Linked DNA regions of Homo sapiens: region 2 is linked to region 1. Evidence: fine-mapped QTL for protein levels in blood plasma. A gene starts in region 1. The other region holds a variant in brackets. All regions are shown on one strand. Distances are between the middles of the regions.

Region 1 (5,365 bases):
AATATACAAAATGCTCTCCATTAGTCACTCTGCTGGCTTCCTCAGCTGTCTCTTGGTTGGAGGAAGCTCATTCTCTAAGATTCCTCATGAAAGGCCCATGTGAGTCACGTTCTCTGAATTTTTGCATTCAGGTCATATCTGTTTGCCTACAACCTTGACACTTGAGGGCTGGGTATAAAAATCACTGCCTGGTACTTTTTTGTGTGTGTGTCATGGAGTCTCGCTCTGTCACCCAGGCTGGAGTGCAATGGCATGATCTCAGCTCACTGCAACCTCTGCCTCCCGGGTTCAAATGATTCTTCCACCTCAGCCTCTCGAGTAGCTGCGATTACAGGCACCTGCCGGCTAAGTTTCATATTTTTTTTAGTGATGGGGTTTCACCACTTTGGCCAGGCTGGTCTTGAACTCCTGACCTCAGGTGATCCACCCACTCTGGCCTCCCAAAGTGCTGGGATTACAGGCATGAGCCACTATGCCCAGCCTGCCTGGCACTTTTGTTCCTTGTTAATGCTGCTCCACTGTTGCCTGGCTTTGCATGTTGCTGTTCAGAAGTCTGATGCCAGCATAAATTTTTATCTCTATAAGCAATTTGATCTTTTTTGCCTTTAAAATCTAATCGTTTTACTAAAATATATTTAGGAGTTGATAATTCCAGATCATTTCCCAAGGTACATGGAAGTCACTTTTGACATGTACATTTAAATTTTCCCTTATTCCTGGATTATTTTCTGGGGTTATAGTTTTAATATTAATTAGGTTTTATTGTTTAATGTTTGTACTTTAGGGACTCCACTTAACATGTATTTTGGTCTTCCTTTCCTGGCTTTTATTTTAACCTCTTCTCTCTGAACCTTTTTACTTCTATCTTTATATTATTTTCAATTTCTTGATTGTTTTCTTGCCATTCTTCAGTGTCCTTTTACATATTTTCATTTGAATATATTTTCCCTTGGACACCTTGTAATTATTCTTTGTTTCTGGGATAGTTTTTGTCATTACTTTCAATTTCCTTCTTGAATTTGCTCAACCCTTGTTGCATTTCTTCCTAATTTTTGTCTAGTCTGTCTTCAGTTCTTGAAATTTCTTATCCTAGATATGTGTGTGTGTGTGTATGTGTATACAAATACGTGACACTTTGTTCAGTTTGACATGTGGTATTACAATTTTCTTATGCTTCATGGTTTTTATTGTGGGGGTTTTCATCAGCGAAAATGTTATGATTTATTTTTTATCATCAGAAATGTGATTTCTGTTTTCTTTTTGCAGAATCTTTAAATGCAGTTGATTTGATGTTTTTCTGTTACTAGGCATTTTGAGGCAGGGTTCCCGGTTCAAGAGTGTTTTCTTTTATCTGTGTACTGAAATGCAGTTTTTAATAGATAATGTTGGTGTTTGGGGAGGGGACTGGCTGTCTTCTCTTTCATTTCTGCAGGATTTGTAATTTTCCCTTCTGACTTCCTTCTTTCCCTTCATTGTCAGGCCTCTGAAGGACATTATCTTCTTTTCGTATTTATCTGACTTTTTCCCAGAAACAAGGCTCCTTCAAGCCTCTCACCTCTTGTCCCATTTTCTTTCAAATCTCTTCCCTTGATCAATAAGGCACCTGACCTCTGTTCAGTTTTTAGTTCTTGGTGTTGGACTTTCTATTTATAAAGAGGTGACAACCCTGTACTTCACTTAAGTCCTTGGCAATAGTGGAGGGAGCTCAGTTGGAATTTGGTATCTTTTCTTTCTTCTACTTAAGTAATTTAATGTTCAGTTCATGGCATTCTCTCTAAGTAATGCTGAAGGCTTGTTTTTGTTTCGTTGAGGATATGGGTACGGACTTATATCAGGCAGCTGCCATTATCCTCTGACCGAGAAGCTCCTGAAAACATTTAATATATCAAGTTCTAAGTAAAATTTCTGTCTTTCTTAGGAACACTGGAAGCTTTGCGTGTTGCAAGGGCATCACCAAGGTTACATAGATTATGTTACAAGACAGATCGTTTTCTTGTATCGTTAAAGATGCTTAATGTGCTTTTTAAAGAACGCAACGAATGAGAAAGAAAAGATTTTAAACAATATATTATTGCTTTCCTTCTTCCTCATTTTGTGTTTATTGAAAAGAACAACTCTACCATTGATAGCTCTGTCACCCACAGAAAAATGTTCTTTTGAAAATTACCTTCTCAGTTCCTACCAACTCAAAACCTCCACATCTGCCTATATAGATAAATAAAATCGATACCAGCGGGTCAGGAATGTTTTGCTGCAAGATTAGTGAGAAAACTGCAGCAAGCAGCAGCAAAGTCGGGTTCAAGCGGGCGGTTTGCACCAAAAACTCAGGTCAGTTGGCCAATAAGAGCAAGCCCGTTAAGGGTCTGAGGTGGCCCCAAAGACCAAGGCTGAAGAGGTGACAGTCTGGGCAGGAAGCACCGAGGCCACTACCGCCCCCGTAATCGAGAGGCCCCGTGTGCGTGAGCAAGGCTCTTTGCCCACGTGTGCGCGCGCTCCAGTCGGGTCCCGGGGCAGCCACCTGTCACTCACGGGGGAGGGGGCGGCCGGCGGGGGGAGCACGCTGAGGGGCGGGCGGCCGGGGGCGGGGCGGCGCCCAGGCCCTCACGGCGGAGCCCGGCGTGCTGCAGCCATGGAGACGCGGCAGTCCCCTCCCGCGGCCCGCGCCCCGGCCCCCGCAGCCGCCGCCGATTGGTCGCCCTTTGCTCCCTGACCCCCCTCGCCGCCTCCGAGGCCGCTGCTTCCTGCTCTGGTGCCGCGCGGCGCCGCCGGCCCGGGGCGGAGCTCGGGCGCCGAGTGCGCGCCGCCGCCGAGCAGTAGCACCGCGCGGGAGGAGGAGCCGCCGCCGCGCCCTTCCCCTTCCTCCGCTCCTCCCCCGGCCCCCACCGCGCCCGCGGCCGGCCCAGGCAGCACTCGCGAGCAGCGGCGGCCCCGCCGGCGGCCGAGTTGGGAGAATGCGGCGGCGCTCGCGGATGCTGCTCTGCTTCGCCTTCCTGTGGGTGCTGGGCATCGCCTACTACATGTACTCGGGGGGCGGCTCTGCGCTGGCCGGGGGCGCGGGCGGCGGCGCCGGCAGGAAGGTGAGTGGAGCGCCCTGCCGCGGCCGGGCCCCTGCGCCCACCCCCCACCCTGCGCCCCTGTCCCCTGCCCTCTCCGCGCCGCCCCTGCGCTCCTCCGCCCGGACCTCCGCTCGCGTCGCCCGCCCTCGTCCCGGGCCTCCGCGCCGAGTGCCCAGGGCAGGGGTGCACCCGGCCCCTCTGCGCACGCCGGGCTCCGAAAGGGCGGCCCCCGCAGCCTTTCTCTGCCCCCTCTCGTGGACGTCGCCCCTCTCTCTGCTCGTCGTAATTCGAGTCTTGTCCGGCCGCCGGGAGCCCCATCCCCTGCGGTTGGAAGTTTAGGGATGGGGGTGTTGGGAAACACAAAGGGGGTGGGGAGGAGAGGAGAGAGAGGCGACCGCTTTTCCAACGCGTCATGTACAGCAGGAGAGAGGAGTCCAAGTTTCTTTTCAGCCCTTTGATACCAGCGGCTGCAAATCCTCGTCCCTTTCCCCCTGTCACTCCGCGGGGCGTGGGTTCCGTGTTTCTGCCACCTTCTTTGCCCTTTACCTTTGGGGGGCAGGGGCGGCCGCTCCCGTGCCAAGTAAAGCCCCAGGGCCCGTGCGAGCCAGGGGCCAGTGCGCCCCTGCGCCCCGAGCGAGGCCAGTCCCGGCCGTTCCCTTGCGGCCCCAGCGTTACCCTCTGCCCAACCCGGCCCCCGGCCCTCCCGCGCGAGCCGGACGTGGCCTCCTGCGCTTGCATTTTCCATCCCCACTCCCCGCTTCAGGGAGAATCCCTCTTCTGTGGCTGTGTTTTTAACATGCTCCAGGGGCCGAGTGATCTGGCTGTGGGGACCGTGTGAGCCGCTCTGCGGTTCCGCGTCCTCGTGCCGCCGCTCCGGACGGCCGGGCCCTGGGCATTCGGGAGGATGGTGAGCGCCGAGAGGAGCCGGGACAGCGCGGTCCTGCGGCCGAGCGCCGGCCGGGAGAGCAGGGCGTCGGGCTGTGTGCTGGAGCATGCCGGCAGGGGACGTTTGTAGTGTTTTACTGGCTCCTCGGCTTTGAAAGCAGCGTTATCTTTTCCGAATTCCTGTAACCCTCGTTACTGTGACATTTAGTGTCACCGCAAACCCAGAAAATTCTGAGTTAATGGAGATGGACTACGGGTGGTTGGGTTGGAACAAGAGAGTGGTATCCTGAAACAAGCCAGAGGGAACTAACTAGATGAACAGACTTCAGTTCTGAAGTCAGACCCCTAAATGTCCACGCCGGGGTTTGGCTGCTTCAGAGGTTTTTTCTTTGCTTCATTCATTCATTCATAGCCGAAGATGTTAGGTGGAATGGGTGCCTTATGTGGTTTCTGGTAAATTACGTGGATTTGTTTTATCTAGAAGGGCAGAAATAAAGCCCTCTTTCCACGTGCTGAATCGGCCTAGCTTCTGAGCTGACATTGTACTCTTAGCGTTGTTTTTGTAAAAAATGGTATAGGTAGTATATGTACGCGAAGACTTGGTTTATTCTTGAACAGCAAAGAGCATGCAGGCAGCAAAAGCCGTGCAGTCCATTCAGAGATATAATCGTGTAAAACTGGAATGATTTTTAAAACTTTGCTTCCCGGTAAACTGTGCCTTGGCCACTCTGCATAGCCTGGTGTGCTGGTGAGACCTGGCAAAGCTTTCTGCCTTTCATGCAAAGAAAACCAAACACATAAGCCACCCTTGGCGTTTCTCTTTCCTTAGTCTGCCACTTTCATTAGTACACGTGATTAGAAAGAGCAAGCGTGCTCGTTCGCCTCCCGGAGGCTGATTCCTCACTCTGGTGGGCTTCAGTTCCTGGATGGTGTGAGGGGTCTTCCATGCAGAAGTCTTCAGACACTCCTGAAGTGTGTGATTCTTAGTTTGTTTTTTTTTGTTTTGTTTTGTTTTGTTTTGTTTTTTTTAAAGAATTCCTGGTGGCAATATAGACAGGTACGGAGACCAGGTAGAAAAAGTGGGGGAAATGAACAATTAATTACACATGGATTGGTGATTTGGGATTCTATTCTTTCTGTCAACGAACCATAAAATTTAATGCTACCCCTTAGGATGCTTTAGTGATTTGTCGGTTGAGGAAGAGGTGTGTAAATGCAATAGCTTTTGAAATTGCAGTGGAAGACTCATTAACTTCGTGTGGTGGACCCAGGGTTAAAGAGAAGCCTTAAGATGGTTTCTGAAGGAGGTAAATAGAGCCCTGCTGTCACGAATGCCTGATGTATAGGAAAATCGTGTAGTCTTCTTTCTTCCCCAATTGTTTCCATGGATTTAGACACTAGAAGTGTCTCTAAATTTATTTCAT
Region 2 (5,365 bases), 180 kb after region 1:
TTGACAAAAAGCCTGATGGCAGAGAGCTTAAGAGGATTGAAAGATGCATGCCCTAGAGTCATTAGGTTTTGCTGTCAGACCCTTGGAATTGGAAATGCAGCACCATGAGCCATGTGTTTGCCAAGAAGTGGCCTCCTGATGCACCAGGACAGCTTCCGCAGGTGGAGCCTGCTGGCCTCCAAGAGGCACTATGTGTGTGACCCTGGGAGCAAGAGCGAGACCTGAGGCCCTGCAGATGCCCACAACCAAGTCCGGGTACAGGGTCTAGGCTCTTCTATCCTCAGGGGTCTGTGGATTCCAAAAATGAAATGCAACAGGTGCCAAATATATCTGAAATTGAAGCTTATTTGCCCAGCTTGGCAACTTCCGCTGGCTCATTTTCCCTTAAAGTTTTCATATTCCCAGCATGTTCCCACTCCATTCTTGCTGCAAATACAGTCTGAAGTTTGCTGGCCCAGGGAACTGACAAAGCCTCGTTCCCTCCCCAGCATTGCCTTCCCCTGGGGCAGTGTTGGAGGTACCACGGCTTGATTTTCATGTTGGATGCTCTTTTTCCTCACATCCTTACAGCCCTTGGACATGCCCTGGTTATCACCACACAGACCCCAGTTCTCTCCCCATATTTCATTTTTTCCTATGCATTTCAATATTAGAAAAGCCTGACTCACATTTTCTTTAGGGAGGGGCAGGGAGAAGATTTCAACATTCACCCTCACTGCCGGTCTCTCTCTTCAGCTACACCCACGCCCCCAGTCCCCTTCTCTCTCCTCCACACCTTCTTTTTTGGCTTTGTTTTGGTTTTCATTGAGTTCTGTCCAAACATCGAATATTTTTAAGCTGTGAGGAATGGGGGTGTCGGGAGGAAGTGGCCAGTCTCTTGTCAACACCCTGTTTCTTTTCCTGGCTGGCAGGTTTTGATTGGAACTTGGTATTCAAGTGGGATTACATGACGCCTGAGCAGAGAAGGTCCCGGCAGGGGAACCCAGTCGCCCCTATAAAGTAAGTGCCAGCATCCTTCAGGGTGCCCCTCCCAGATGAGACCCCAGGTTCCAGCTTCTTTGCTGGGCCCGCACCGCCTGGAGACCCAGTGGGGGCTGTTCACCTTCTGCCCTCCGGTTTCCCCTCGTCTCAGCTCAAAGATGAGCACCTTCCACCAGGTCATAGAATAAAATCCTTGGAGATTTCTTTTCCACAGTTGAAGTCTCACATAGGTTTATAAGGCCTATCTGCTAGGTCTGTGCATTCCTGTATGTTGATAATGTAGAGCGTTTCTGTAGCAGAGCAGGATCTCCGAGCTGACCCCAGGCCCAGGAAAAGGGGCTTGGTGGGCAGCAGGAGGCTTACTGCTGCTACTGCCCAGCAGGCCTTTGCTCTCCTGCAGAGGAAGGAGCCCATGCTCATGAAGCCCATGCTTTTAAGATTCCCAGGCCGGGCGGTGGGCTTTCTGGTTGAGAGTCAGGATGCCTTCTCTAGCTGGGGAGAGAAGGGGGCCACCTCTTCCAAGTTGGCACACGGTTAAGTGAGATAGCATTCACAGAGTACTTAGCGCTGAAATATATTTGCTGACATTTAGCCAACATCTGCAGTGTGCCATAGACCTTCCCAGCACTTTACACTGAATTCGCACAGCATCGCTTCTGGGAACAAAGTAGGGAGCTCAGTGTACATCTGTTGTCAACCCCTTCCTGGGATGATGAAGTGAGGAGCATGGTGGGTTCCCTTGTAGGAGGTGGAGTCTCATCTATGATAGTGATAATGAGAGCTGGTGCTGTGGAGCATTTCCTAAGCGTGCTCAGGGCTTTATGCCCATGATTTTTTGCAATCCTCGTAGCTACCCTATAAGGAAACTGACACACAGAAAGGCCGAGTTCTTTGCCTATGGCAGCATGTCAGTGAGTAGTGATCCAGCCCCAGCAGTCGCTCCCACATAGGGGAGGCTCAGTCCAGCCCCTGGCACTGTGGGAACATCCAGGCAGGGACAGTGGGGGAGGCATTTGAAGGCAGCAGTGGTGAAGCAGAGAGAGTGGCATGCTGGGCACTGAGCAGAAAACAGTGGCAGTGTGGCTGTTCTGAAGATCAGCTTATTGTTAGGGAATCAAGGCTTGGCCTTGGCGCAAGGGTGCTGGCAATCTAACCTTGACTTTGCCCTCTCCTCCCTCCCCCCTCTTCTTTCTGCCTCTTTAGAACCCCCATGATTGCTGGTGGGCTGTTTGTGATGG[A/C]TAAGTTCTATTTTGAAGAACTGGGGAAGTACGACATGATGATGGATGTGTGGGGAGGAGAGAACCTAGGTATGTACAAGCCTCAAATCTCAGGACAGAGAAGTGCCTCAGCTCTGCAAAAGGCAGGGTGCCAATTGGAAAAAAAATTTAAAAGGCTTCAGAGTGACCATTCACTGGGCTTAATCGATCCTTGCAAACACATATGTAACACCCCTTTTGCTCTTGAAAGTCTCATGAGTTGGGCATTAAAATGTGCCTCCCTAGGTTAGAGTGGAGGATGCCAGAATACGGATAAAGTCTTTGAAGGGAAATGCAAACTCTTTCAAGGCGTCTGAACCCAAGTGTTTGGAATGTTGCAGGCTTGCAAAAACAGAGGGAAACAGTCCAGGAGCTCAGATTCATGCTGAGTGGTGGAGAGTGGAAAATGAACCCCGGCGAGGCTGGTGGGATTGATTGAATTGAAATCATGAAAATCCGATGGGGCAGGGAGGCCTTGGCACTTAATCCCTTCTCGACTACCTTTGCGAATGGTTCTCATTTGTTTTTCTGTTTGTTTGTTTTTTTGTTTTTAAATACCCCATGCAAATTATTTTTACCCAGGTTTAGGCACAGCAAAATTTTGCACATTGTGGTCTATATTGGTAGCCTTATATTTACTGCATAAAAGATGAAAAGATGTGTTTTGTTTGTTTAGGGTTTGGAGTGGGGGAGATCTTTTTTGCTTGTTTCAATTAAAGCCTTTTGTTTCAAATGCTTGACATTCTGAGCGAATTCTCCTGGGCTGCTGAGTGTTGTTAACTTACATTCGTCCTTGGGTGAGTGTACCCTGGAGGACAGGGGAGAAGGAAAGGGGAAAATGAGGCCACTCATTTTTAATAGTTTTGAGACTTTGAAAGTTTTTGTTACTTTAAAAGAAAAGACTAGCCTAGCCTATTATTTTTCCATTGTTTTATGATGTTGAAGTCAGTGATACCATCTCATCTTTGAGGATTTCTCTGCCTTGGTTTGATGTTGAAAGCTTCTTTAGGCTCGATTACTATACTGCACGGGTGGAGAGACCGTGAGTCAAACTCCTTTTGGGTTGTTTTAAAAAAATGATACATTAACCTCTAGGGAAAGCTTGGATTGAAGTCACTTGAGTACAAAAGGCTTCAGAATTGTTAACCCTCTAAAGAGAGTTCTGTCACCCTGTTCCATGGGTATCCCCTAATGGTTTAGTGGAAATCCAGCAGGCCAGGGTCGCCCAGTAGGGCAGCGTATCGTGTAGGTGGCCATTTCTCAAAAACAGTGTGGTTTTCAGAAGTTTGCATACTATTAGCTGAAATGAGACATCAGCCAGCATTTTGTGTCATCGTGTAGGAAGAGTGTTGATTTACATATCTAAGGAGGCATTCACCCAGAGACTGGGGGGTAGATTTGTTGTAAGGAGCTGCTTTATTGTGGTTTGGTGTTTGTATTTATTATGTAGCTGTGCTAGAAGGTTCTAGGGTCTGAGCGGTTCAGGTTGGGGTGAAGATGAACCCTGCAAGCAGGAGCACATCTCTGCCCAGGAAGGCTGGGGCATCTGTCCCTCCGTGAGGGGCTCTCCTGGGTTATGCCAAGGACTTGGACTCCCAGTGAGGTTTGGAGGGCTCAAGAGCTTCACGTGAGAAGGCCATGCCGTGAGCCTTTCTCCTTAGCACTGCTCTAGCTTCTGCTTCTGGGGGCCGTGCACACTACTAGCCATTGCCAACCTGAGGGGCCTCTGTGGGTGTGCATTGGGAGAGGTGTATGGTGCAGAGAGGCCCGAGTAAGATCCAAAACCACCTCCTCAACGTGTGCCCCGCTGGAATGACCAGAGCTTCCCATTTTCCTAATCATGTAAGTCCTTATGTCATTTAAGCAATTAAAATGGAGGACCAAGAACCTAACCCTTAACTCTAACAATGGGGGTAAGGCTCCTTGGGGGCATCATCTGTGTTTCTCTACATCCCTGTCATGCAAGGATGATGCTAAGTACTTCCAGGGAATCATCTGTTTGTGCTTTCTTAACGGAGTGTGGTCTGCAGAGGTCATGACACCTTGCCCAGGGTCTCAGAACCAAGATGTAAACACTAACTGCCTAATTAAAAAGCCATTGAGTTTTACTGAGTAATTATCCTCAAAGTTATAGGGTTCAAATGAAATCAACGCTGAAGATACTGTAGTTATACTTAGCCTTGAAAATCTCCCACAAAAGCCCTGGAAGGATCCCTTGTTGGCTTAACAGATTCCCCATAGAGAAGCCAAGGGGATTTCCTAGCCCCTAATTCTAAATCTTGTGGTGAGGCAAATGGATATTTAAATTTTATTTTCTGAAATAGAGACAACTTCTTTTTTTTTTTTTTTTTTTTTTGAGATGGAGTCTCGCTCTGTCACCAGGCTGGAGTCCAGTGGCACATTCTTGGCTCACCGCAACGTTCGCCTCCCGGGTTCAAGTGATTCTCCTGCCTCAGCCTCCCAAGTAACTGGGATTACAGGCATGTGCCACCGTGCCCGGCTAATTTTTTGTATTTTTAGTAGAGACAGGGTTTCTCCATGTTGGTCAGGCTGGTCTCAAACTCCCAACCTCAGGTGATCCGCCTGCCTCGGCCTCCCAAAGTGTTGGGATTACAGGCATGAGCCACTGCGCCCAGCCGACAACTTCTTAGGTTGTGTTGGGAACTGTAAAAAGTAAAGTCGGAAACTTTCACTGCTTATGCTTATGTGATTGTAACCATACATTTTCTATTAGTACAAGAGAGTTGCTTATTAAAGCCCCGTAACAGCTGCATGGATCACCCATTCCTAGTGAGTGAGGCATTAGTTTGCTGGACCCAAGTAGAAACTCATGGTGTTCTGACCCCTGTGTTGTATTTCCTGCCATGTGCCTGGCATTCTGGGCACCTGTTGCCATAACTAGGTTGACTGCCTGCAGGATTTGCCATCAACTCACTGTATGGTCTGTGATGGACCCACCCTATTTCTGATCAATCTGCATTGGTGACAGTGACTGCACACTCTGTAGATACTATATGTGTATATTTTTACTTCTTTTAATTTGTTAATTGACAGATAATAATTGTGCATATTCATGGGATACATAGTGATGTTTTTAATACATATAATGTATGGTGATCAGATCAAGG

Evidence for each region. PIP is the posterior inclusion probability: the model's chance that the variant is causal. Protein levels are from antibody-based Olink assays in UK Biobank. Linkage for the fine-mapping came from a reference panel and not from the study's own genotypes, which makes the PIPs less certain.
Region 2: its variant is fine-mapped to the plasma level of the GALNT2 protein (UK Biobank, PIP above 0.99). The variant lies in the coding sequence of GALNT2. If it changes the protein, the assay may bind it differently, which can mimic a change of level.

Annotation. Positions count from the first base shown.
Region 1 is chr1:230,064,330-230,069,694 of GRCh38, forward strand. It overlaps GALNT2 (polypeptide N-acetylgalactosaminyltransferase 2), which reads left to right and starts at 2,909. Exons shown (of 16, transcript NM_004481.5): 1 at 2,909-3,077. The coding sequence starts at 2,952. RefSeq lists enhancers at 2,125-2,284, 4,639-4,718 and silencers at 2,415-3,224, 3,665-3,724.
Region 2 is chr1:230,248,273-230,253,637 of GRCh38, forward strand. It overlaps GALNT2 (polypeptide N-acetylgalactosaminyltransferase 2), which reads left to right. Exons shown (of 16, transcript NM_004481.5): 9 at 912-999; 10 at 2,185-2,288. Among named protein-coding and RNA genes, the nearest start is that of PGBD5, 180 kb to the right of the region's middle. RefSeq lists enhancers at 3,071-3,732, 3,733-4,393. The variant A/C (reference allele first, on the strand shown) is at 2,220.